Homo sapiens: one gene and its partners. The protein of the gene in region 4 purifies or fractionates together with the protein of the main gene of each other region. This does not show direct contact. Each region holds a gene or a part of one and is shown on either strand. Other genes may lie near its edges.

Region 1 (3,500 bases), on a different chromosome or scaffold from region 4:
TTTGTAGAAGCTAGCAGTATTGAAGGTTTGTACTGGTGAGCTTTTGGTAGGTAAGTGAGGGCTATATTGCAGAGAAATTTAAATCCCAGAACTAAAAAAAAAAAAAAAAAAAGGAGTTTTGGCTTTACCCTTTAGAGAGAATAGAAAGCTATTCTCAAAGCATTAGAATATTAAAGTGATATTAAGAAAGTATGTTATAACATTTATCACTTATAGATAATAAACAAAATTAGTCATTCCCTCCACAAAATAAAAAAAAGTAATAGTTCTGTGTAATGTCAAATCAAAATGATCATATCTCTCTTGAATATGTTCTTTCTCATTTTCTCATCCTCTACTTCAGGTTTGGTAACAAAGAGGAATACATGGCATTCATGAATGATTTTTTAGAACATGAATGGGGTGGAATGAAGCGCTTTCTTTTGGAGATCTCTAATCCAGACACCATCTCAAACACCCCAGGCTTTGATGGTTACATTGATCTGGGCCGAGAGCTTTCAGTTTTGCATTCCTTACTGTGGGAAGTAGTTTCCCAACTTGATAAGGTAAAGTAGGTTGGTGGAAGATAGAGAACTTTAATGTACCTGAATTCTGGAAAGTAACTATAGAGTGATAGCACTCACTCTTTCTGCTAATTGAAAGCAACTGTTTACCCTAGAAATCTGAGAGTAAATGGTCATCATTTCTGAGTAAAATATGAGATCGACAACCATGAAACTCTAGAAAACCATGACATTATTAATATATGTTTTTAATAATTATCTGAATTAATGGAGTATATTTCTCTAAATTTATATATACAGAGTGCATATCTGAAAACTTGACTAGAAACTAATATATTGGTATATACAGCCTTATGCATGTCTAATAGGATAAGATGAAACCTCATATAGTAATTTCTAATAAAAGTATAGATTTAGCTAAGAAAATACTAGGTTTATCATGTTTTAAGTAACTACCCATGAAACAAATTTTTTTACTATACAAGTCATAGAGTTTCATATAATTATTAGTGCTAACAGTCATTGTTTTCTTTCTTTACAGATGTGAATTAAGAATACAGAAAGCAATTATTTTTAATCGTTTGCTAAGAATTTTATTATATACCGTATTAATAAGTAAATATACACCATGCCAATCATTTTCTTCCTTCTGGAATTTAACAAAAAGGAATAGATTTGGTAGTAAAAAATAGTCTAAAAGACGTTGGCTAGGCTTATTACAATAATTATTTATTGATGTTTTTGTTTGCTACAGGCACTTTATAAATATGTGTGGTGGTATGTTAGAATAACTTCAAAAGACAGTCATTTTTCTATGATAATGATCTACTTATTTTCCTCTATTTTCCTATCAATAAAAATGCTATATCAGTAAAATTTGAAGGGGAATAAAACCTATTAACAAAGACCACTTTGCTGAGGAAACATATGTGGTAATGTGTCCTCCAGTGCTTAAAATATTTGTAAAACAATAAACTGTTCCTTATTCTCGAGGACCTTTTCTTCACTTTTAGAAATGCTAGCTAGATTTTTAAGTTGCAGCTATGCCAAAGATAAACCCTTTTCATGTGAATCGTAGCCCAACATTATTGAGCAAGTAAAGGCCTTGGTGGCATCTATCCCTGTTTGAGTAGGGTAGAAGAGTCTGTTGATTGTTGAGAAGGCAAAGACCCAAAGGCAGCTATGCCAAACTGACTGACAGTTGAAGGGGACCCCTAAGACCCCATGAGAATAAGAATTCCCTAAATAAAAAAATGATTGAAATGGATAAAGCAAGTATTAAAGAGTTCGTCTTTGTTGAATAACTGCATCTCAGTGGAATGCAGATTCAGTTTTCCTGTGAAATGGGCCTGGTTTATTCAGGATCAAAGTCTTTTTAACGGGCTTTGCTATGTAAACACACTTTCTCCTTTTTAATCTGTGTTTGGTCCTGGGAACCAGGAATACATCTAGACATATCTCATAGAGGAAGTTTACCTGATTTTGCTGTTAAATTAACAATAAAAATTGTCTTACTGATGGAAACTCAGTTGGCAGTGGGTCAGGGTTCCCAAGATTGACTGGGATAGTGGATGGCAGTATCATCTGTGTGCCCTGCAGTACTCTGGATTCCTGAATGAGCACCTTCTTATATGTTGGCATGCATTTCTTTTCTCACATGATCCCTTTTCTTTGAAAGTTTATCATACTAGTTGATCCTCTGATCTTGAAGTTCTTTTGGTTAGAAGGAATTTGGTTCTGCCTCCACCCTCCCCCACCTTGATCTACTAGCCTCCCAAAGATTTAGTTTGCTTCGCATGCCTATTTTAGTTGGAATGGCATTAGTTTGGTAGTTTTGAGCATGTCTTTTAATTTTTACTTGCATAATCCTGATTTCGATTTCCTTTCTTTCCTCGATGTCTGCCGCACCTTGTTTCGCCTCCTCCATTCATCTCGACGCCATGGTTCTGCTGCTCCATAACAATGCATTATGAACCTGCCACTCCCATATGCAAACACTTACCCTTCCCTCCAACCTACACCCCTCCATCAATGGCCATCGTTGTGCCAAAAACAATCTGTGGTGGATGTCGCAATGCTTATTATCCAATTAGGGTGAAAATTCCTTCCTACAGGCGACCGTGGCAAAATTGGGGCCTCTCCCTCGTGTTCTTGCTGATATTACCAAGTCATTGACTAATCCTACGCCAATACAACAGCAACTGAGACGCTTCACTGAACATAACTCCAGTCCAAATGTCAGTGGAAGCCTCTCCTCTGGGCTGCAGAAAATATTTGAAGACCCCACTGACAGGTATGAAAGAGAGAATTTGACCACTATCTCGGAGAAACATAATGTTTAGATTTAGCAGAAGTATATTCAACCTATTTGTTGAATTTACAAGTTTAAAATCATGAGCAACTGAAGACTCATCTGACCTGAGAGCAGTCCAATTATTTGTCATAATAATGCACAAGATCTGGGATGACTTATTTTCTAGAATGGTAGTATAGAGAGTTACAATATATTCCACAAGCATATTTTTAAAATTTCTGTCTTGCTTAGTGGAAGACTAAAGGCTTTATGAAATTCATGTTTCTGTACGTTATAGCATTCAAAATCTTGGAGAACCTCGGTTAAAACCATTTTATAGCTGGCTATGTCAACTGGACAGGTAGATACAATGTCGATGCTTAGACTGTTTTAGGGATTGGCAAGACTTGTGCCTTTTGCAGGGACCTTTCAGTTGTGTGCTTAGAACTTCTTCTCTTGAAGGTTTAGACAAGTAAGTATGAATTGGAATATTTGGGGAAGGTTTAAAACCTAACTAGGAAATTATTGGAATCCTGGTTAAAACTGAAGACAGTGATGGGTTGGTATCTACAGTGTTATTCTGTACCTTTGGGGAAAAAGTAAAAATGCTGGATTTTATTCTAAGCATTGTAATAATTCCCTAATTAGATAAAATCTGAGTTTCCAAAGAAATGTACGTATCCACATAAGAACCTTCGGAGGAG
Region 2 (3,500 bases), on a different chromosome or scaffold from region 4:
CATAAAGACAGAATCCCAAAGGTTGCCAGCAGGCACAAAGCCCCTGGCAGAGAGGCAGGCAAGGTCCCCTCACCCGCTGGGAACCATCAGACAGCCAATTTCATTTTAATGCCCTTCAAAAGATCCATATGGGTGATGAAAAACCAGGGTATCTACAGCCCCGTGAGCAACTTTCTTTACCTCCCATAACCAAACTTTTAGCAACCAGGATTGAGCACTTGCTAGAATCTGACAGGTTCCAAGTACCTGTTCTCTTTTTTTCAGCCTCACTGCCTGTGGGAACACAGTTTGTGGACAGCCCTCAGAACAGTCCCTCCACGGACTGCTAGAGAGTCCAGACAGAGGTGTGTTCACAGGCTCTCCTAGACACCCTCTGGGCCACTGGATGTCAGATGCCCCTAAATCACTGACAAAGATCAGCTGACCTCACAGTTCAGGTTCCTGGGCAGCTCTGCCCCTACTGTCTGAATCTCCTCTACAAGGCTAGATGGAGCCTAAAAGGTCACCTCCACCACCAGCTCTCCCAGTTGGGTCAGAGAAGTGCAAACATAAAATCCCTGCCAAACAGCAGTTCCACCTGGCCTTGGAACCAGCGGTTCCCCTGGCAAACCCTTCCATCTGATTGTGAGGAAGCTCTTCTTACTAAGCTCAAATTGGGTTGTCCTACAACTTCCACCCTGAGCTGCACTCCTCAGAACCATACAGAATCCCTCTCCCCTGTGACAGCAATTCAGAGAATGGAGGCTGCCTGGTTATTCAGAACAGAATGTTATGGAAAGGCTCAGGTCTCAAGGCCAACTACTCCCCTCTTGGTTGTGTAACCTTGAGAATGTTACGTACTTTTCTGAGCCTGATTCTTCAATTGTTTTCTAGGGAAATCAGTGAGATAATGACATAATTTATCTAGCACAGAGAAGGCACTCAGTAATGTCTAGTTGCTCATTCAGTCAATGATTCATTCATTGAAAATAGTCCTTTAGTTCCAAGTTGTTCCCACATTTAAACATCCTCAGTTCCCTTGGTGGTGCCTCATGCTTTCCAGTGGTACCAGAAATAAGACATCGAGACACCCTGCAGGGAGCTCTTTATTCTGTTGTGCTCACCTTTTCTCACTGAGCTTCAAGTCCCTCTGTAACACTGTCAGGTCAATTTGGAAGTCATGTATGTGCAAGGCAAGTATGATCACATATGCAGTAATCTTCGCCTTCATAGAATCCGAAATTAAGTTCCGTAATCTAGAAAATCAGTGGCAATAAAGGAGAAACAAAATTAAACTCTCAGACAATTTCTCCAAAAGCAAAATAAGAACATCCAATCCTATTCTCATATGCACGGAATGTCTTCCCAACTTCAGGAAAGGAAAAGGAATGTGGGTGACTTTGCCCTTCCAAGGTTCCTGGGCCTCACACACAGTGGAGCAGTGTGCCAGTCCATGTTTCCCTCTGAGGCAGATAGAGAAAGCTGGGCCTACACTCTACCTGGGCACTGCTAGCGCTTTGAGCTGGTGAGGGCCCTGTGAGTCTGTCCCCGCCTGCCCAGCAGGGCTGCTGGGAAAACAATCATCCCGAAATCAGCTGTGCTGATTCTTCCAAGCACACTCAAGAGCAGAAAACACACGCCATGCAAATGGCAGGAAGGAAGCCCAGGGGCAGGGCCTGCGGGTCTTTCCCCAGAGTCACCGAGTTGGGCTGCCCTTTTCTGCAATGCTGCCTTTCCGCAGAACACCAGCTCTGTGAGACATCGGGAAGGGCTATTCAAAAGTATGTGAAGTAAAACAAGTCTTTATTGTAGGACTTCCCAGAGCTTCTAAGGTTCCCAAAAGGTAATACTTTTCTAAGAAGGGCAGAGTATGTCATATTTAGCATTTGCTAAACTTACTGGGGCCCCAGGAGCCTTCCAAATGGCAGCAGTCTTTTCAGCACTGCATCTCCGTGGACATGGAATTGAGTCCAAGCCCCTGCTCCTCACTCCCAACCCCCACCTACTTTCTCCTGCACAAGAAAAATCCCAGCAACCACCCCCTGACCTGCCATTGTTGTAGGTCAAGCAAGTAAAGTGCTTCAGCAGTTTGGTGTTGATGATGTGGGGAACTCCAGGTCCCAGAGCACCTACAACACAAAGTTGAGTTTGATCATTTTCTCTCAAAACCCTCAGGCCACACCTCAACCATGAGCTAAGAGAAAAGGCCAACAGCTGGGCCACTGCAATGACCAGAACCAGGTGGTAAGAGAAGCAGGGCCCACACAAAGCAGAACAGCCACATCAAAATGAAAACATGCTTGGTGTGCTGCAGCCTGCAGTTTGCCCTGCACGAGAGATGCTGGTGATGGGGCAATGACAAGAAAACACAGCCTGAGGCCTAAGGACCCAGAGTTAACATGACCTTAGAAAACAAAAATTGTGCTGAAAGCTCAGGGAGAGAGGGGGAAAGGTGGAATTGGAATGTGAAAATAAGAACTAAGTGGCCAGGCGCGGTGGCTCACGCCTGTAATCCCAACACTTTGGGAGGCCGAGGCAGGCAGAACACCTGAGGTCAGGAGTTCAAGACCAGCCTGACCAACATGGTGAAACCCCATCTCTACTAAAAACACAAAAATTAGCCAGGTATGGTGGCGCAAACCTCTAATCCCAGCTACTTGGGAGGCTGAGGCAGGACAATTGCTTGAACCCAGGAGGCAGAGGTTGCAGTGGGCCAAGATTGCGCCACTGCACCCTAGCCTGGGCAATAGAGTGAGACTCCATCTCAAAAAAACAAAACAAAACAAAACAAAACAAAACAAAACAAAACAAAAAACAACTGGCTGGGCATAGTGGCTCACACTTGTAACCCCAGCACTTTAGGAGACCAAGGCAGGCAGATCATGAGGTGAGGAGTTCGAGACCAGCCTGACCAACATGGTGAAACCCCGTCTCTACTAAAAATACAAAAATTAGCCGGGTGTGGTGGCGGGCGCCTATAATCCCAGCTACTCAGGAGGCTGAGGCAGGAGAATCCCTTGAACCCAGTAGGTGGAGGTTGCAGGGAGCCGAGATCGAGCCACTGCACTCCAGCCTGGGCGACAGAGCGAGACTCTGTCTCAAAAAAAGAAAAAAAAAAAAGAACTAAGCAAATACAAGCTGGGTGCAGTAGCTCACGCCTGTAATCCCAGCCAGCATTGTGGGAGGCCAAGGAGGGTGGATCACCTGAGGTCAGGTGTTCGAGACCAGCCTGGCCAACATGGAAAAACCCCGTCTCTACTAAAAACACAAAAATTAGCTGGGCGTGGTGGTGCCCGCCTGTAATCCCAGCTACTCGGGAGGCTGAGGCAGAATTGCTTGAACCCAGGAGATGGAGGTTGTAGTGAGCCAAGATCATGGGACTGCACTCCAGTCTGGGTGACAGAGCGAGATACTGTCTCAAAAAAAACAAAACAAAAACAAAACAAAAAAACAACAAAAAAAGCATGACTAAGCAAATACAGTCATGTCCCACATTACAGTGTTTTGGTCAATGACAGGCC
Region 3 (3,114 bases), 6.1 Mb from region 4:
GGGATTACAGGCGTAAGCCACAGTGCCAGGCCTGTTTTGTTGTTGTTGTTGTTGTTGTTTTGAGAAGGGTCTCATTCTGTTGCTCAGGCTAAAGTGCAGTGGTGCAATCTTGGCTCACTGCAACCTTCACCTCCTGGGTTCAAGTGATTTGTCTGCCTCAGCCTCCAAGTAGCTGGGACTACAGGTGTGCACCACCACACTCGGCTAATTTTTGTATTTTTAGTAGAAACAGGGTTTTACCACGTTGGCCAGGCTGGTCTCAAACTCCTGGACTGAAGCAGTCCACCTGCCTCAGCCTCCCAAAGTGCTGAGATTACAGGCATGAGCCACTTTCAGTCCCTACAGACTATGTATGTGAGACAAGAAATAACGTTCTATCCTGTTGAAGCCCCTGTTATTTTGGGTTTTGCTGTAAATGCAGTTAAATGTGATCATAGGTGGGATGCAGTGGCTCATGCCTGTAATCCCAGCACTTTGGGAGGCTGAGGCAAGCAGATCACCTGAGGTCAGGAGTTCAGGACCAGCCTGGCCAATGTGGTAAAACACCGTCTCTACTAAAAAATACAAAAATTAGCCAGGTGTGGTGGTGTATGCCTTTAGTCCCAGCTACTTGGGAGCCTGAAGCAGGAGAATCGCTTGAACTCAGGAGGCAGAAGTTGCAGTGAGCTGAGATCATGCCACTGCACTGCAGTCTGGGCGACAGAGCGAGACTCCATCTCCAAAAAAAAAAAAAAAGAAAGAAGAAATAGATCAAATTTTAAAACACCACTGAGCTAAGTATGTACTGGGCCTTTTCAAAGGAGTCCCTGAGGCTCTGAGAGGTAGAACAACTTAATGAAGTTCACATAGCAAGGAAATGGCCCAGAAGAGATCAGAACTTCCATTCTGTCTCCAAAGCCCTCATTCTTTCTACTCTATGTTGCTGGCTAAGTGCTGAGTGACTCGCCTTGTGGCTGCTCTTGGAGGGCGTGAAGAGGCCAGAAAAGCAGGGCTGCCACTTACCCTCTGCCCACCCAGGGGACAGGGGCTTATGTGTAGCTGGGACCCACCTGAGCCGTGGTTGGGCAGGAAGTGGTCCAGGATGGCCGGCTTTTTCTTCCGCCGTTTGCTCTCGATGCCATGGGGGTCTGAGGGAAGGCAGAGATGAGGACCCCTGTTCCCCGACAGCCCTTCCTCCCCAGCCTGGGGTGGGACAGGGCAGTGGGGTCAGCTGTCCCCTCCCCAGAACCTGGGGATGGGGGTGGAAAGGGGCAGAGGGCACACACCAGAGCTGTTCAGCTCCCCAAGGACGTCGGGCATCCCCCGTTTCCGCTTCTTGTCCACGCCGTAGCTGTCTGTTAAGGAGATACCAGGGACACACAAGAAGTAATTCATCAATAATAATTAATTCCTTTATTTATTTATTTATTTATTTATTTTTAGAGACAGTCTTGCTCTGTTGACCAGGCTGGAGTGCAGTGGCACGGTCTTGGCTCACTGCAACCTCTGCCTGCCAGGTTCAAGTGATTCTCCTGCCTCAGCTTCCCAAGTAGGAGGGATTACAGGTGTGCGCCACCACGCCCAGCTAATTTTTGTATTTTTTTAGTAGAGATGGGATTTCACTATATGTTGGCCAGTCTGGTCTTGAACTCCTGACCTCAAGTGATCTGCCTGCCTTGGCCTCCCGAAGTGTTGGGATTACAGGTGTGAGCTGCTGTGCCAGGCCTATTTTTTTTTTTTTTAAAGATGGAGTCTTGGCTGGGCGTGGTGGCTCACTCCTGCAATCCCAGCACTTTGGGAGGCTGAAGTGGGCGGATCACCTGAGGTCAGGAGTCCGAGACCAGCCTGACCAACACGGCGAAACCCGGTCTCTACTAAAAATACTAAAATTAGCCGGGCATGGTGGCGGGTGCCTGTAGTGAGTCTTGCTCTGTTGCCCAGGCTGGAGTGCAATGGCACAATCTTGGCTCACTGCAACCTCTGCCTCCCGGGTTCAAGCAATTCTCCTGCCTCAGCCTCCCGAGTAGCTGGGACTATAGGCGCCCACCACCACGCCCGGCTAATTTTTGTATTTTTAGTAGAGACGGGGTTTCGCCATGTTGTTCAGGCTGGTCTCGAACTCCTAACCTCAGGTGATCCGCCTGCCTCAGCCTCCCACAGTGCTGTGATTACAGGCATGAGCCACTGCGCCCGGCCTACACACTGGCCTCTTTGTTGTTCCTGGAGCACCCCAGGCACAATCCGGCCTCAGGACCTTTGCACCTGCTGTTCCAGCTGTTTAAAGCACTCTTCCTCCACTCTCACTATTTCCCTAGAAAACTTCCCTGCTTAGTCATCCTCCTGTCCTCAGCTCAGCTGTCCCCTCCTCCAAGAAGCATTCCCTGACACCTACAGCTGGGTCAGGTACCCCCTCTGGGCAATGTGAGCCCTTGAGCACTTCATTCCAGTCCTGCCCACTCTGGTCATCACTCTGTAGGGACAGGCTGTCCCCTATCCTCAGGACTATAAGCCTCATGAGGACACAGCTAGGGGCCGTGCTGGTCACTGCTGTGTCTCTAGCAATACCGAGCACAGGCCCGGGCATGTGCAGGATGCTGAGGGGAGGAAAGATTAAATACTCTCCAAATGTCACAGGACAGCTACTATTATTTCCATTTTGCACAGAAGAATGAGGCTCAGAGAGGCCAAGGTCACACAACCAGTAAGCAGCAGAGCCAGGATCTGAACACTGTCTTTGTAGCTCTGAGCCTGCATTCTAGTTCTGCCTCTTTCCCATCCCCACTGGGGTCTCCCCAAGGCCAAAGACCTAGTCTCCGAGGTGGTGGGTCACCCTGGGTTGCTGTAGTTACCATGGTCGCGAGGCAGGTACGTGAAAGGCAATGGCTCGCTGCAGACCCCATCGGTGAGCCGCTGCAGGAAGACGTTGACTGTCACGGGCTCGACAATCTCCAGGTCCTCGTAGGGCGGCGTCTTGAACACAATGGCAATCTGGCGGTGCACGTCGGCCTGGGAGAAGTCAGCCCGACCTTCCCAGGAGGCCCTGCTGAACACCACTGATATGTCCTCTGGCAGGAAACGGGGGACATCAGCTAAGCCAGGACATCTGGACCACTGTGCTCCCAACTTGCCCAGCCT
Region 4 (3,210 bases):
TGGCAACAGAGTGAGACTGTCTCAAAAAAAAAAAAAAAAAAAAAAAAGGTACCAAGTAGCTGAAAAGCCTGTGACCTGGGGGCGAGAGGCAGGCCCTGAACACTGGGTCCTGAATGACGTCAGTCCATCTGAGGAGGGGTCTGGTCTCAGGTGGCTGGGCTTATAGGCAGGGGAGCAGAAACTTGGATGTCAGGGCTGTGGGCAGATGAGCCCTTCTTCCCATGAGGCTGAGGAGGGCTGTCTCTGAACCCTGCTGCCCATTGCTGGGAGCCTGGGGTGCCAGAGTTTCACAGAGGGCCTGAGCTCTGCATTCCCCGGTCCTGGGTAGGGTAGGGGTCTGCAATACACTCTGCAGGTGGGGAGCCCGGGGGCCCGACAACTGGATCCTGGCAGCTCTGGGTCTGTGGGTGACAGGTCTGCATCCCAAGTGACCTGGGGCCTCCAGGTGGGGGTCCTGGGTCCTACATATCCAATTCTCAATCATCTGGGCCCTGAGTGGAGGTCCCTGGTCCCGATGTGTGGGCTCCTGAAGCCTAGGCATGATTTCCCAAGGAGCTCAGTCTCAAATCAGGGAAGCTGAGCCCAGGGCCAGGTGCTCTCGCCTAGCCCAGGAGCTGAGTCCTTCCCTGGTGACGACCCTCACCCTCGTAGTTTTCAGCCTCCAGCTGCAGCTTCCAGTCCTCCTCACTCTCCTCTTCTTCCTTCTCCAAGTCGGAATCGGGGTACAAGGCGACAGGGGTATGGTTGGTGTCGGGAGTACGGTCAGGGCCCTGAGCGAGGTAGGTGTCGGGGGCTTCCCTGGGGCGCCGGGGGCGGGGCTGAAGCAGGGCACGGGCACAGGCGTGTGCCCCCACACGGCAGGCCAGGTGCAGCGCCGTGTGGCCCCTACGCTCCGCCACACACAGCCCGGCGCCTGCTGCGTACAGCTTCTCCACCGTGGATGTCTCCCCCAGGATGGCTGCCAGGTGCAGGGCTGTCTGCAGAAGCAGAGGACAGGCGGTAGGGAGTCACACTGGGAACCCTGGACCCCAAGCCCTACACCATCCCTCGTGGCTCACCTGGCCTAGGTCATTCTGCAGGTCCATGTACTCAGTGCCGGCCGAGAAGCCTAGAAGAAAATCCAGGAAGGGTTCATGCTGATGAATCACAGCCAAGTGCAGTGCCCTGGGGACAAAGACCGGGGTGAGAGGGCAAAGTTCAAGTCCTCTTGCATTCCTTCATTGAACAAACATGGGGCGCCTACTGTATGCTAGGCCTTGTGACCACAGTTCTGGAACCCCCTGTCAGCTATCTGGGAGGTCAGAGGTCAGAGTTTCATCAGCAAATTCGTGGAATCAATGTTTATTCAGTGGGATTTCCACTTCTGCCCAAAATGAAGTAACATGGACCAGAATTCACTCCCACGTGAAACAAACAAACAAACAAACAAGAGTCAGACGAAATACGGTATATGAAGCAACAGTGTTGAAGACACTGGACATCGTGCAATGAATCACAGTGACCCCTGAAAGACAGGAAACACGAGGTGGGCCCCACACTTGACTGCCACAGCTTATTGTCTTGAGAGAGTTTCAAAGCCACGGTGCAGAGAGGGGAATCCAAGCAGAGCGCATCAGGTTGTCTGAGGTCAGGAGATGGATATGGAGGAAGAGTCTGTGGAGGCCAGCGTGGCTAGAGTCACAGGACAGAGTACAAAACAGAGTTGCCAAAGGAGAGATTGCTGGGGAACTGCAGGAGGTTCTCTTGTGTATTCCGGAGAATACGGATCAGCCATGCCTGTGAGTCTGTGGGGATGGGAAAACCATCCAAAAGGATTTCAGAAAAGTGCTCGTTACTCACACAGGGCCAGGAATAGTGAGTGTTCCCACCAGCCAGGCTGGAAAAACATCATCACAGGCTATCGGGTGGGATACTCAGGAAGGTCTTGCCTCAATAGTGGGGAATAATTAACTGTAGATGGGGCACTGCTCAACACCCACCTAACAAATCATAAAAGCAAAACTGGAAAGACTCAAACTACTTCCGAGTAATTTAACTCCATCCCAGAATAATATTCAAGAATATTTATTTATTTATTTATTTATTTATTTATTTTAATTTTTATTTTTTGAGAGAGAGTCTTGCCCTGTCGCCCAGGCTGGAGCGCAGTGACACGATCGTGGCTCACTGCAACCTCCACCTCCTGGGTTCAAGCGATTCTTCTGCCTCAGCCTCCCGAGTAGCCGGAACCACAGGTGCGTGCCACCACACCTGGCTAATTTTTGCAGTTTTTAGTACAGACAGGGTTTCACCATGTTGGCCAGGCTGATCTTGAACTCCTGACCTCGTGATCCACCCGCCTTGGCCTCCCAAAGTGCTGGGATTACAGGTGTGAGCCACGGCGCCCGGCCTCAAGAATATTTATAGGAATACAGAATTCTCCAGACTAACAAGGCAAAATTCACAATGTCTGGCACCTAACCAAAGATTATCAGGCATGTAAAGAAGCAGGAAAACATGATCCATAATAGGAACCATCAGTGAATTGAAACTGACCCAGAAATGACAGAGATGTTAGAATTTGCAAACAAGAATATTAAAACAGTTCATTATGCTGGGCACGGTGGCCCACACCTGTAATCCTGGCACTTTGGGAGGCCAAGGCGGGCAGATCACTTGAGGTCAGGAGTTTGAGACCAACCTGGCCAACACGATGAGACCCTGTCTCTACAAAAAATACAAAAAAAATTTAGCCAGGCATGGTGGCATGCGCCTGTAATCCCACCTACACAGGAGGCTGAGGCAGGACAATCATTTGAACCTGAGAAATGGAGGTTGCAGTGAGCTGAGATCGTGCCACTGCACTCCAGCCTGGGCAACAGAGTGAGACTCCGTCTCAAATAATAATAATAAAATAAAATAAATTTCTTTTACTCTATGTGAAATGGCATAATATCACTTTAAGGTAGCCCATGATAACCTAAAGTTGTAAACTATCAACCCTACAGCAGGAGTCAGCAAACTTTTTCTGTAAGGAGCCAGATAACTATTTTAGTCTTTGTAGGTCATATGGTTTCTCTTTTTGGTTTTGTTTTTCTTTTTCTTTTTTTGTTTGTTTGTTTTGTTTTTTTGAGATGGAGTCTCGTTCTGCTGCCCAGGCTGGAGTGCAGTGGCGTGATCTCAGCTCACTGCAACCTCCGCCTCCCGGGTTCAAGCGATTCTCCTGCCTCT
Region 5 (3,554 bases), on a different chromosome or scaffold from region 4:
GACTGACTTATGCTTGACACGAATTTTCCGACCTACGATGGGTAATCCCATCGTAAGTCAGGAAGCTCCTTACCATTTATTTATGTTTTCTACTGAAAGCCTATCGCTTTGGCACCATGGTAAAGCTGAAAGCCGGTAAATCAAACAATCCTAAGTCAGGCACCGTCTGCTGTGTTGCAGACATTAAATGTATTTTCGGCTTTCAGCATTTTCTATTCAGGTTGGGTTTATCGGGATGTAGGTCCACCCTAAGTCAAGCAGCAGCTGTATTTACAACCAAGAATATCCTAAATGATACCCAGCAGAGCTGTCCGGATATACACCCAGGATGAGAGTTGCGCCCTCCTGCTCATAGCAAAAGTCAAGGAACAAAGAATATCTTCTTGCCCAGAAGAGTCTGCCTGTCCCTCCCCACTGAGGTTCCAAACTCCACGGGCTAGCAGCCTGTCTGCCCAGAATCTCTGCTCTAGACACCCACAACACGAACGAGGACACGCAGATGCCACACACAGCACTGGGTGGACTTTTATTTTAAAGTCAAAGGCACAGCCTGGCTGGGCTGAGGCAGTGACCATGGATGCCCAGCCCAGACCCCCAAGGCCCCACCCCCAGCCAGGAGTAGCTGTGCCAAAGAGGAAGGGGTGGGTGAGAAGATGGCCTCCTCTTTTAGGAGCCACCTATCTCCTTCCTTAGCCCCAACAGGGGAGAAGCAGATGACATAAAGTGAGGCAGAAATGCTTCAGAGGGTCCCCCAGGGCCTCTCCTTCAGTACCCCCAACACGGGTCTTTGGTGGACGTAATTGCACAGACAGTCCATAAAGTGACAGTTGAGGGGTGCCCCTCCCAGGAACGGGGCCTCAGGGGAGAACAGGGTAGGGGGTCCCAGTTTAGGAGTTAGCACTCCTAACTCAGTGCTTAGAAGTGGGGGAGGGGCTCTTTCCTGTTGGAGCAGTCCCCCTGGAGGGGCCTTCTGCCCAGAAGAGGCAGTGTCCTGGGAGAGGGCCCCCCAAACCCCACTCCCCAGCAGGCCCCCCCTTCCCTGCAACTCTATCTGGTAAGACATAAAAAATTCTCTGCTTATAAAAATACTTCTGCTCTGTCTGGGAGTGGGGTGGGGTAGGAGAGGAAAGGACAGTCCCTTGGGGATCAGGTCAGCCGCAGGCAGAGGCCTCCGGGAGTGAGCCGGGCTCCCAGGTCACAGCCCCTATGAGGGAAGGGGGTCACAGTGGTGGGGATTAGGAGGGGGGCAGGGGGCCGTTGGCTCGGCGGGGGGCCCCTTTGGAGGCGACGGGGGCTCGGCCCGGGTTGGCTGGTGCAGGGGAGCCCCGGCGGGAGGCGGTGGCGCTCCGCAGCTTCTGCTTCCGCCGCTTGGCCAGGGGTGCATTCTCCACGCTCTTCAGGAAGAAGCCCTCCCGCTTGCCCCGGTTGAATGCCTGGCAGAAAGGAAAGGGTGAGTGCCCCCACCCCCGCCTGACCCCGGCTTCCAGATCTAGTTTGACCTCCATTCCCAGACCTTGCCTCCAGCCGCCTAGGTCAAGGCCGACAGGGCCTTGGCCTCCAGACCGACCACCGGATTCGGTTCACCTCCCTTTTTTTTTTTTTTTTTTTTTTTTTGACGGAGTCTCCCTCTGTCGCCCAGGCTGGAGTGCAGTGGTGCAATCTCAGCTCACTGCAACCTCCGCCTCCTGGGTTCAAGAGATTCTCCTGCCTCAGCCTCCTGAGTAGCTGGGATTACAGGCGCGCGCCACCACACCCGGCTAATTTTTCTCTTTTTAGAAGAGACGGGGTTTCACCATGTTGTTCAGGCTGGTCTCGAACCCCTGACCTCGTGATCCGCCCGCCTCGGCCTCCCAAAGCGCTGGGATTACAGGCGTGAGCCACCGCGCCCGGCCTCACCTCGCCTTTCTGTGCTCCGATGGCCGGGCCTCCCCAGACCCCACCTCTCGAGGCTTCGCCCACCCCTTCCCTTCAACAGACCCTGCCCCTTACCATGAAGGTGGCGTTGAGACCCGAGCGCACTGCGGGCCCAGAGGACTCGAGCACGTCGGGCGTCCGGAGCGGGGGCGAGGAGCGCGCGCTGCCGTCCTGCAGCCACGAGCTGCCCCGCAGTCCCTCGAGCTTCAGCCGCTTGGCGGGGTCCACGGTCAGGAGCCCTGGAGGCGGGGCAAGGAAGTGTGGGGAGGAGCCTGGCGTAAAGGCTGAGCCCCAAAGAGATCGTAACAGCCCCACTCTCCTCCCCTACCCATCCCCAACCAGGACACCTGGCCCAGTGACCATCCCTGTCCCAGCGTCCCCCTCCCCAACCATGGTCTATGACCTCCAGCTCCGCACCTCGGACCAGCTCCTTGGCTTCCTCGGATACACCCTGCCAGGCCTCCCCGTCAAGGGAGAAGCGCCCCTCGCGGATTTTGCACATGATCTCGGCCGCCTGGCTCTGCCCGCCCTGGCCAGAGGCCCCCTGGAAGGGGACCTGCCCCGACAGCATCATGTACTAGGAGGGTGAGGGGAAGGTGAGGCCGGCCCAGGCTGGGGTGCCGAGGCTGACCCCTCCGCTCCCACAGAACCACTCACCCTCCCCACTAGGGGCACTCCTGAGACCCACGCGTGGTGAACCCTGACTTCTAACCCCCAATACCCGGATGCTCCGACTCTAGCACCAGAGCGACCCCACCTCTGTATTTGAACCACCCCGATCCCAGCTTCGGACGAAACCCAGCCGCCCCCACCAAGATGACCCCTGTCCCCTCCCTCGTGCTGCTGCACATCAGGAAGACGCCAGGTCCGAGCGACCCTGACCCCGCCTCAAGGACCGCGTCCCATACCAGAATGACGCCCAGGCTCCAGAGGTCGCAGGACTCGTCGTAGCCCTGCTGCGCCAGCAGCTCGGGGGCAGCGTACTGCAGCGTGAAGCAGGGCGTCTGCATGGGCACCCCGGGACTCTGCGGCCGCAACCGCGCGAACCCGAAGTCGATGATTTTCACCGGGGCCCCGGGCGTGTCGTCGGCGTACAGGATGTTCTGCGAGGGCGGCGGGGTAGTGGTCAGAGGCAGCCCCCGGCGCCACCGCTCCGCCCCGCCGCCGAGGCAGCTCGCCCACCTCCGGCTTGAGGTCGCGGTGCACCACGCCCGCCTCCTCGTGCATGAAGCTCACGGCCGACACGAGGCTGCGCAGGATCTGGCTTGCTTCCGACTCGCTGAAGTGCCGCTTCTTGCGGATGTGCTCCAGCAGCTCCCCGCCCCGCAGCAGCTCCAGGACCAGGTACGTGTGCAGCTGCGGGCGGCGTGGCGGGCCAAGGTCAACACCCACCCACGGCGGCAAGCCCCCTCCCACCACCCAGGCCCCGCCCCCGGCCTTCGGGCCCTGCCAATGTTCGAGAACCCCCTCCTCAAAGTCCTTTTTCTTTCTTTCTTTCTTTGTTACTTTTTTGGAGACAGTCTCGCTTTGTCGCCCAGGCTGGAATGCAGTGGCACCACCTCGGCTCACTGCAACCTCTGCCTTCCGGGTTCAAGCGATTCTCGTGCCTCAGCCTCCCAAGTAGCTGGGATTACAGGCGC
Region 6 (3,972 bases), on a different chromosome or scaffold from region 4:
TATTTACAATAATAATTCTACAGGAACTGTATTTTTTGAAGATGTAAACTAAAGAATTTAGAAATGGAATATCATCATGTTCCTAATTCACTTAAAAGTCTCTCAGCAGTAGCCAGGTACAGTGGCTAACGCCTGTAATTCCAGCACTTAAGGAGGCTGAGGTGGGAAGATTGCTTGAACTCAGGAGTTCAAGACCAGCCTGGGCAACACAGAATTTGCCTGTACTAAAAATTTCAAAAATTTGCCAGGCATGGTGGTGCACACCTGTAGTCCCAGCTACTTGGGAGGCTGTGGTGGGATGATCACTTGAGGCTGCAGTGAGCTGTGATGGTGCCACTGCACTACAGCCTGGGGACAGGGAGACCCTGTCTCAAAATAAAACAAAACAAAACCAAACAAAAAACTCTCAGCAAAAAAAAAAAAAAAAAAAAAAAAAAAAAAAAGGCATAGAAGAAGCAACTATGGCAAAATGTTAACAACTTTTAAAGTGCATAATGGGCATATGGCTGTTTATTATACTAATGTCTCTAATTTTCTATACATTTAGAACATTTCATAAAAAAAAAAGTAAAACAATTGAAAAAGGACCATACAACTAAATTATCCCAAAACCTCCCCAAAGTAAGCAGGAGCAATGGCATTGTTCTGGACAAAGCATCAGTAAGGCCATTGACAGTAAATTAATAGGTCATTCCAGAAACTTCTGTATATTAAAAAACATCAACCTTTTATGATACCACTTCTTTAATTTCTTACTCAGGGAATTATGAGGAAAATAATAATGACTTTCTGGAAGTTGAGATGTAGTTTTTCTAGGTCCCTCATGAACCTTTCAAGGCTTTTTCATTTGTATTGAGTCTCAATTCTTGTAAGTATAACCAGATTGGTCAAATATTAGCTTGTCTTACCACTGCAGGATAAATGACAGGCATTAACTGCTCCTGGGGTTTTGCCATCATTACACCAGTAGCGGCTATTGATCTGAAATATCCCATAATCAGTGCTTCTGTCTCCAGCATTGTAGTTTGTAGCTCGTGTGTTGTAACCACTCTCCCATTTGGCCAAACACATCCCTGAAAAGAACTTATTTTTAGTAATAAACAGCAACACTAAGTGACTTATACTCTATAGCAAAATCAGTTCTACTTAGCTACTTCTATTTTACTGATTTGTTTTATAAGTATAAAGATTTACTTATAAAATATCTTAGCACTTTAGTGTTAAGATAAGGGACTTGTAAGAGAATCCTTTTGTAATGCAAATCATCTTGTAACACCAACGAACAATATAACATACTTTTAAAATATTAAAATACATGTTTGTTCCATTGCTTTTACCCTTCCCGTGCTCCCATCCCTCAGGCAACATTCAGCCAAGAACAGAAAAATCAACAGAGCTGTTGAGTAGATTTTGTAAATTCATAGCAGATACATAGGCTGATGGAAAAATGCTTTTTTTAATCAGAAAAACATAAGGATTTTCTGATAGAAATTTTCTTATAATATCTAAAGGTGAATTTGGATATCAAGTTAGAATCTTGAAAACAAGACTATTCCGTGATTTCATCCCTTCACTCATTCATTCAAAAATAGCTATTGAGGGGAAATGTCTGAATTCAATCTGAAAACTACAGAGATTATTACATCGACAACTATGTACTAAACTATAAAATAACTTTTCCTCATGGCACATCTTGAATTGTGTGGGAGAAAATGAAAGATAGTTAATCAAGTAGAGTAGATAAAAATAATAAAACATTTCATGCTGAGTTTCTGGGATCCTATACAAAGAGTGACTGAAGGGAACTAGGTTCCTACTGCTCTTGTGTAGGGAATTCAATATATTCTTTAAAAACATCACTGTTAAAAATCCCATGTCGGCTGGGTGCAGTGGTTCACACCTGTAATCCTACCACTTTGGGAGGCTGAGGTGGGCAGATCATTTGAGGCCAGGAGTTCAAGACCAGCTTGGCCAACATGGTGAAACCCCATCTGTACTGAAAATACAAAAAATTAGCTGGGTGTGGTGGTACACACCTGTAGTCACAGCTACTCAGAAGGCTGAAGCACGAGAATCACTTGAGCCCAGAAGGCAGAGGTTGCAGTGAGCTGAGATCATGCCACTGCACTCCAGCCTGGGCCACACAGTGAGACTGTCTTTAAAAATAAAATAAAATAAAATAAAAATAAAAATAAAAATCCCACATCACGGCAGGGGACTTGAAGACAAGAAAAATACTGCATCACTCTAGGCTCTCAGAGCCCAAGTTCAAAATGGGAAATAACTGGAGTCACATACCAAGGACTTGAGAGAGCTCTGCCAGGTCCTCAAATGTATCTTTCAGTCAGCTTACATGTGCCATTGAATCTCAGGCACCCAGCAAACTTCCTAGCACTAGAACAGTACAACAGGTCCTGTTTTACTTAGAATGGAATTTTCCCCTGCCATGCCCGTATTCCTTTATCGGGTATCTCTGGTTATAAAGAACCAAACTGATGTTTTTAGCCATTGTAAGTATACAAACCCACAAAGAAATAAAACATCTATTCACTCAAAGCCCCTTCTTCTTCTTCCTTCTCTCCTAGTGTCTGTTCCATACGTAGCTAATTCTCTGGAATTATGGAGAGTAGACTTACAGTTTGCTAGGCTGATTCCCCTGTAGCCATCCATTCCCAATCTTTTCAGAGTTCTGGCCAACTCACACCTTTCAAAGACCTTGCCCTGGACCGTAACAGAAAGGAGGACAAGCCCCAGAACAATGAGAGCCTTCATGTTGACTGCTAGGTCAGAGTGCTAGGCTGACCAGGGTGAGCTGGCCCCAGTATTTAACATCTTTTAACTTCCTTCTTCCCCTTGTGGTTTGGGGGCTCCACCCTTTCAGTTGTGTGGAAAACAGGAACTGTCTATTGATCCACTGACTCTAAAGAGATTTTTTTAATGCTTGAAGAGAGATATGCTGATGTCCTAAGAATTAGTCTACAGGAAAATAATGAAATGGAATTGTTTAAAGTACTGGCTCTGGAAGAATTGGGGCATAGCACTACTTCCAAGACAGGAACTTTCTTCTGTTTGATTATGAATTTGAGCAATTATAAAGAAAAAAATGACTATTTTGTGCAGCTTAAAATGAGCTGTGATTTTTGAGTAACATTCAATTTTGTGAAATTGTTTTGTATGCATTCACTTTTTTATATTTATCTTTTTTACTTAAAATTATTTTACATATCTTTTCCACAAAATGGACATGACACATGTGCCTGTTGTCTTAATGGGTGTATAGTGTGACACCACGTTGCTCAGCTAGTTTCTTACTCTAGACTCTTTTTGTTACTATAGCAAATTTTTTATTATTATAAATCAGTGTTTTACTATTATAAATAAGGTTCATGTGAACAACTTTACCAACTACCTTTTTTTTTTTTTTTTTGAGATGGAGTCTTACTCTGTCACCAGGCTGGAGTGCAGTGGCGCAATCTCAGTTCATTGCAACCTCTGCCTCCCGGGTTCAAGCAATTCTCCTGCCTCAGCCTCCCAGGTAGCTGGGACTACAGGCATGTACCACCATGCCCAGCTAATTTTTGTATTTTTAGTAGAGACAGGGTTTCACCATGTGGCCAGGATGGTCTGGATCTCTTGACCTCGTGATCCGCCCGCCTCGGCCTTCCAAAGTGCTGGGATTACAGGTGTGAGCCACCACATCCGGCCTACTTTACCAACTACTTTTCACAATACTTTGCCTCCCCTTTCCATATTAGAACATAAGGGGTCATTAGAAAGCAACAGCATTTTAAAAATAAAACCTACCCAAACATATATCCAACTAAATGCTACCTTTGAAAATAGCAATCTCAGGAGGCTGTGCACAGCTTTTAAAACAATGCTACCAGAACTCAAAAAGAACTGCACTTCTGTATCTGCCTAAGAGGACAGATTCTGAGCCACACAAAGTGTCATCACTTTGTAGTTACCCTT
Region 7 (3,500 bases), about 30 Mb from region 4:
GCTCTTTTTTTAACATGTCCAATCCTATTTTCTCACTATCTTCAGGACAAAATTAGGGGAAGATTCTTCTCTAGTCCATGTATATGTATACGTACATATAAAAACTTAACTCTGCAAGTCTTTTTAACTTTTGGCTGGGCGCGGTGGCTCACACCTGTAATCCCAACACCTTGGGGGGCCGAGGCGGGCAGATCACCTGAGGTCAGGAGTTCAAGACCAGCCTGGCCAACATGGTGGAAACCTGTCTCTAATAAACATACAAAAATTAGGCCAGGCACGGTGGCTCACGTCTGTAATCCCAGCACTTTGGGAGGCCGAGGCAGGTGGATTATCTTAGGTCAGGAGTTTGAGACCAGCCTGGCCAACATGGTGAAACCCCGTCTCTACTAAAAATACAAAAATTAGCTGGGCGTGGTGGCAGGCGCCTGTAATCCCAGCTACTCGGGAGGCTGAGGCAGGAAAATTGCTTGAACACAGGAGGCGGGGGTTGCAGTGAGCCGAGATTATGCCATTGCACTCCAGCCTGGGCGACAAGAGTGAAACTCCGTCTCAAAAACAAAACAAAACAAAACCAAAAATTAGCCGGGCATGGTGGCGGGTGCCTGTAATCCTAGCTACTCGCTACTTGGGAGGCTGAGGCAGGAGAATCACTTGAACGGGAGGCGGAGGTTGCAGTGAAGTGAGATAGCGCCACTGCACTCCAGCCTGGGCAACAAGAGCAAAACTCCATCTCAAAAAAAAAAAAAATAATAATAATAATAATTAATTAAATTAAATTAAAAATACGATTAATGCCTGTAATCCCAGCACTTTGGGAGGCCAAGGTGGGCGGATCACTTGAGCTCAGGAGTTCAAGAACAGCCTGGGCAACATGGTATAACACCATCTCTACAAAATATTAGCTAGGCATGGTACCATGTGCCTGTGGTCCTATTTACTCAGAAGGCTGAGGTGGAAGGATCGCTTGAGCCCAGGAGCTGGAGTTGCAGTGAGTAGAGATCGTACACTGCACCCCAGCCTGAGGGACAAGAGTGAAACTCCATCTCAAAAAACAAAAAAACCCTAATAAAAAGATTGAGTGCCTAATCTGCAAAAGACCACCACCAAATAGTGACTGCCTACCCTCTCTTAAGGTCTCCATGCAGTTCCCATGCGTAACACTCACTACTTTTGGAGTTTCTAATCAAGGAAAGGGTGCAGTTTGAAATGGCAATCCCAATACCCTGAAATTGTGATCACATCTCCTGAGGGACAAGGACCCCTCTGCCCGTGTGAGAACCATCCCTTATATAAAGTGATTCTTCACAGAAATCCCTCAAGTCCTGCGCTGCTCTAATGCATGTAAGGTGTGGAGAGCACTATTCACAGCACCATTCCAGCTCCAAGGCCACCACTGAACTACCCACATGACTCAAGCTCTTTCTGTCTCTAGCGCTTTACCAGCAAAACCAGCGCAACCTGTATGCATGGTAGCTCAGAGGGACACTGTGACAATCAACAAAGAATGGCAAAACAAAAAGCAGCTCATCTAGGGAAGCAGTACTGCATGTGGCTAAGAGCTGGGGTCACCATGTCGTCACTAGGCCTCGGTCCTATGGAGGCTACTACCTACACGCTTACAGCTTTAAAAGAGACTCTTAGGCCGGGCGCGGTGGCTCACGCCTGTAATCCCAGCACTTTGGGAGGCCGAGGCGGGCGGATCACGAGGTCAGGAGATCGAGACCATCCCGGCTAAAACGGTGAAACCCCGTCTCTACTAAAAATACAAAAAATTAGCCGGGCGTAGTGGCGGGCGCCTGTAGTCCCAGCTACTTGGGAGGCTGAGGCAGGAGAATGGCGTGAACCCGGGAGGCGGAGCTTGCAGCGAGCCGAGATCCCGCCACTGCACTCCAGCCTGGGCGACAGAGCGAGACTCCGTCTCAAAAAAAAAAAAAAAAGAGACTCTTAGCACACAGTGAGGCAATGATGTATTTTTCTACCAATAATTTTATTGAGAAGGGTAGAGAGGGGGACTGATTCACTCCTAGCCTTCTACTGTTCAGGCTTTAAAACTAGCAAACCAGAGCCAAGGCTGAGAAAACCTAGGCATCATAATCATTACAGACTAGCAAAGGGACAATTTAGCTTTCAACCCTATGACTGCAAAATATGGTAATGGGGAAGTCCATTGGAGAACCCCCCCTCCCAAAAAAACAAGCAAGCTAATCTTTGCAGGCTAGTATCTCTTTCCCTAACCAGAATAAAATCAAAGAGCTGAGTGAAAGCAAAGGCCTGGCAGCATGCATTCAAATAATCCAAAACCCTGTCTTCTAATCTTGAGCTCACAATCTGACGTGTCTCCAAAATCCTTTTTGAATAAACAATCACTCTTTAAAGTACAGCAAACACTCAAATGCATTGTATAGAGAATCTGATTTAAATAAAACAATTCAAACGGCTGTTTACTGAGTGGTTACCAAGGTAGTATCATGAAAGCAGCAAGCTGCCTGGGAGTCAGGAGGGCCTCCCCTGGAGTCTTTAGGTCAGGTTCCTGAACCTGGGTTTAAGTGTTTAAAACGAAAGTTTTCTTGATTGTCAAATGGAGTCAACTCTAACAGTACCTCCTCAGGAATCTACCCTAAATATATATTTTTATTTTTATAAATAACCAATCCATCTGTTTCTTATTCACCCACAAAATTACTCAGGAAGGGGCCAGGTGTGGTAGCTCACGCCTATAATCCCAGCACTTTGGGAGGCCAAGACGGGCGGATAACGACGTCAGGAGATCGAGACCATCCTGGCTAACAGAGTGAAACCCCATCTCTACTAAAAAAAAATATTAAAAAAATTAGCCAGGCATGGTGGCGGGCGCCTGTAGTCCCAGCTACTCGTGAGGCTGAGGCAGGAGAATGGCGTGAACCCGGGAAGCGGTTCACGGAGCTTGCAGTGAGCTGAGATCGCGCCACTGCACTCCAGCCTGGGCAACAGAGCGAGACTCCATCTCAAAAAAAAAAAAAAATTACTCAGGAAGGGGAGCAGGTTAAGTCATTTATTTTATATATGATACTACATTTAAAAAAATTTTAAAAACCTATACATTCCCCTAAAATGAACTTTTTTTTCCCTGACTATACCCTAACTCTGAATCTTTGCTGACTTTAATTGGAACAGACTTCTCATCAAAATTAAGCAAATCCTATTCTCACACCCAGGAGAGAAGTAACTGCAAAACAAGATTTCCAACCTGGGTTCCCAGATCAAGCTTGCTAGCTCACTGCATTTGTGGTCTACTGCACACTCCACTCCTGGTAGAGAAAGAATTCCAAAGAACCAAGTTTCTATTTTTCTCCTGTCTCTCAAAGGCTTTCAAGATAAAAATCCAAATTCACTGCCCATCAGCTGGCTGCCAGTGCTCCAACCTTAAAACTCTATAGCAACTTCAGTGTTCTTGTTTGTTTGTTTGTTTGAAGAAGGAGTATCGCTCTGTCGCCCAGGCTGGAGTGCAGTGGCCCAATCTC

Evidence for each region.
Region 1: the proteins of NFKBIB (region 4) and RASAL2 purify together in Homo sapiens (affinity purification with mass spectrometry; 2 studies listed by BioGRID and IntAct, with this or other methods). This does not show direct contact.
Region 2: the proteins of NFKBIB (region 4) and POLR1E purify together in Homo sapiens (affinity purification with mass spectrometry; 5 studies listed by BioGRID and IntAct, with this or other methods). This does not show direct contact.
Region 3: the proteins of NFKBIB (region 4) and RELB purify together in Homo sapiens (affinity purification with mass spectrometry; one large-scale study listed by BioGRID and IntAct). This does not show direct contact.
Region 5: the proteins of NFKBIB (region 4) and RPS6KA4 purify together in Homo sapiens (affinity purification with mass spectrometry; one large-scale study listed by BioGRID and IntAct). This does not show direct contact.
Region 6: the proteins of NFKBIB (region 4) and LYZ purify together in Homo sapiens (tandem affinity purification; one large-scale study listed by IntAct). This does not show direct contact.
Region 7: the proteins of NFKBIB (region 4) and HNRNPM purify together in Homo sapiens (tandem affinity purification; one large-scale study listed by IntAct). This does not show direct contact.

Annotation. Positions count from the first base shown.
Region 1 is NC_000001.11:178,454,104-178,457,603, forward strand, and holds part of RASAL2 (ras GTPase-activating protein nGAP), read left to right. Parts: intron 1-343; coding exon 344-545; intron 546-2,596; coding exon of another isoform or gene 2,597-2,617; coding exon 2,618-2,796; intron 2,797-3,500. UniProt on the Homo sapiens protein: Inhibitory regulator of the Ras-cyclic AMP pathway.
Region 2 is NC_000009.12:37,499,448-37,502,947, reverse strand, and holds part of POLR1E (DNA-directed RNA polymerase I subunit RPA49), read right to left. Parts: intron 2,109-3,500; coding exon 2,027-2,108; intron 1,236-2,026; coding exon 1,104-1,235; intron 1-1,103. UniProt on the Homo sapiens protein: Component of RNA polymerase I (Pol I), a DNA-dependent RNA polymerase which synthesizes ribosomal RNA precursors using the four ribonucleoside triphosphates as substrates.
Region 3 is NC_000019.10:45,032,464-45,035,577, reverse strand, and holds part of RELB (transcription factor RelB), read right to left. Parts: intron 3,045-3,114; coding exon 2,829-3,044; intron 1,335-2,828; coding exon 1,266-1,334; intron 1,128-1,265; coding exon 1,050-1,127; intron 1-1,049.
Region 4 is NC_000019.10:38,902,969-38,906,178, reverse strand, and holds part of NFKBIB (NF-kappa-B inhibitor beta), read right to left. Parts: intron 1,165-3,210; coding exon 1,059-1,164; intron 978-1,058; coding exon 644-977; intron 1-643. UniProt on the Homo sapiens protein: Inhibits NF-kappa-B by complexing with and trapping it in the cytoplasm.
Region 5 is NC_000011.10:64,369,162-64,372,715, reverse strand, and holds the end of RPS6KA4 (ribosomal protein S6 kinase alpha-4), read right to left. Parts: intron 3,271-3,554; coding exon 3,097-3,270; intron 3,018-3,096; coding exon 2,823-3,017; intron 2,492-2,822; coding exon 2,332-2,491; intron 2,154-2,331; coding exon 1,990-2,153; intron 1,434-1,989; coding exon 1,236-1,433; 3' UTR 501-1,235; downstream 1-500. UniProt on the Homo sapiens protein: Serine/threonine-protein kinase that is required for the mitogen or stress-induced phosphorylation of the transcription factors CREB1 and ATF1 and for the regulation of the transcription factor RELA, and that contributes to gene activation by histone phosphorylation and functions in the regulation of inflammatory genes.
Region 6 is NC_000012.12:69,347,209-69,351,180, reverse strand, and holds the start of LYZ (lysozyme C precursor), read right to left. Parts: upstream 2,801-3,972; 5' UTR 2,773-2,800; coding exon 2,637-2,772; intron 1,074-2,636; coding exon 909-1,073; intron 1-908. UniProt on the Homo sapiens protein: Lysozymes have primarily a bacteriolytic function; those in tissues and body fluids are associated with the monocyte-macrophage system and enhance the activity of immunoagents.
Region 7 is NC_000019.10:8,447,975-8,451,474, reverse strand, and holds part of HNRNPM (heterogeneous nuclear ribonucleoprotein M), read right to left. Parts: intron 1-3,500. UniProt on the Homo sapiens protein: Pre-mRNA binding protein in vivo, binds avidly to poly(G) and poly(U) RNA homopolymers in vitro. Involved in splicing.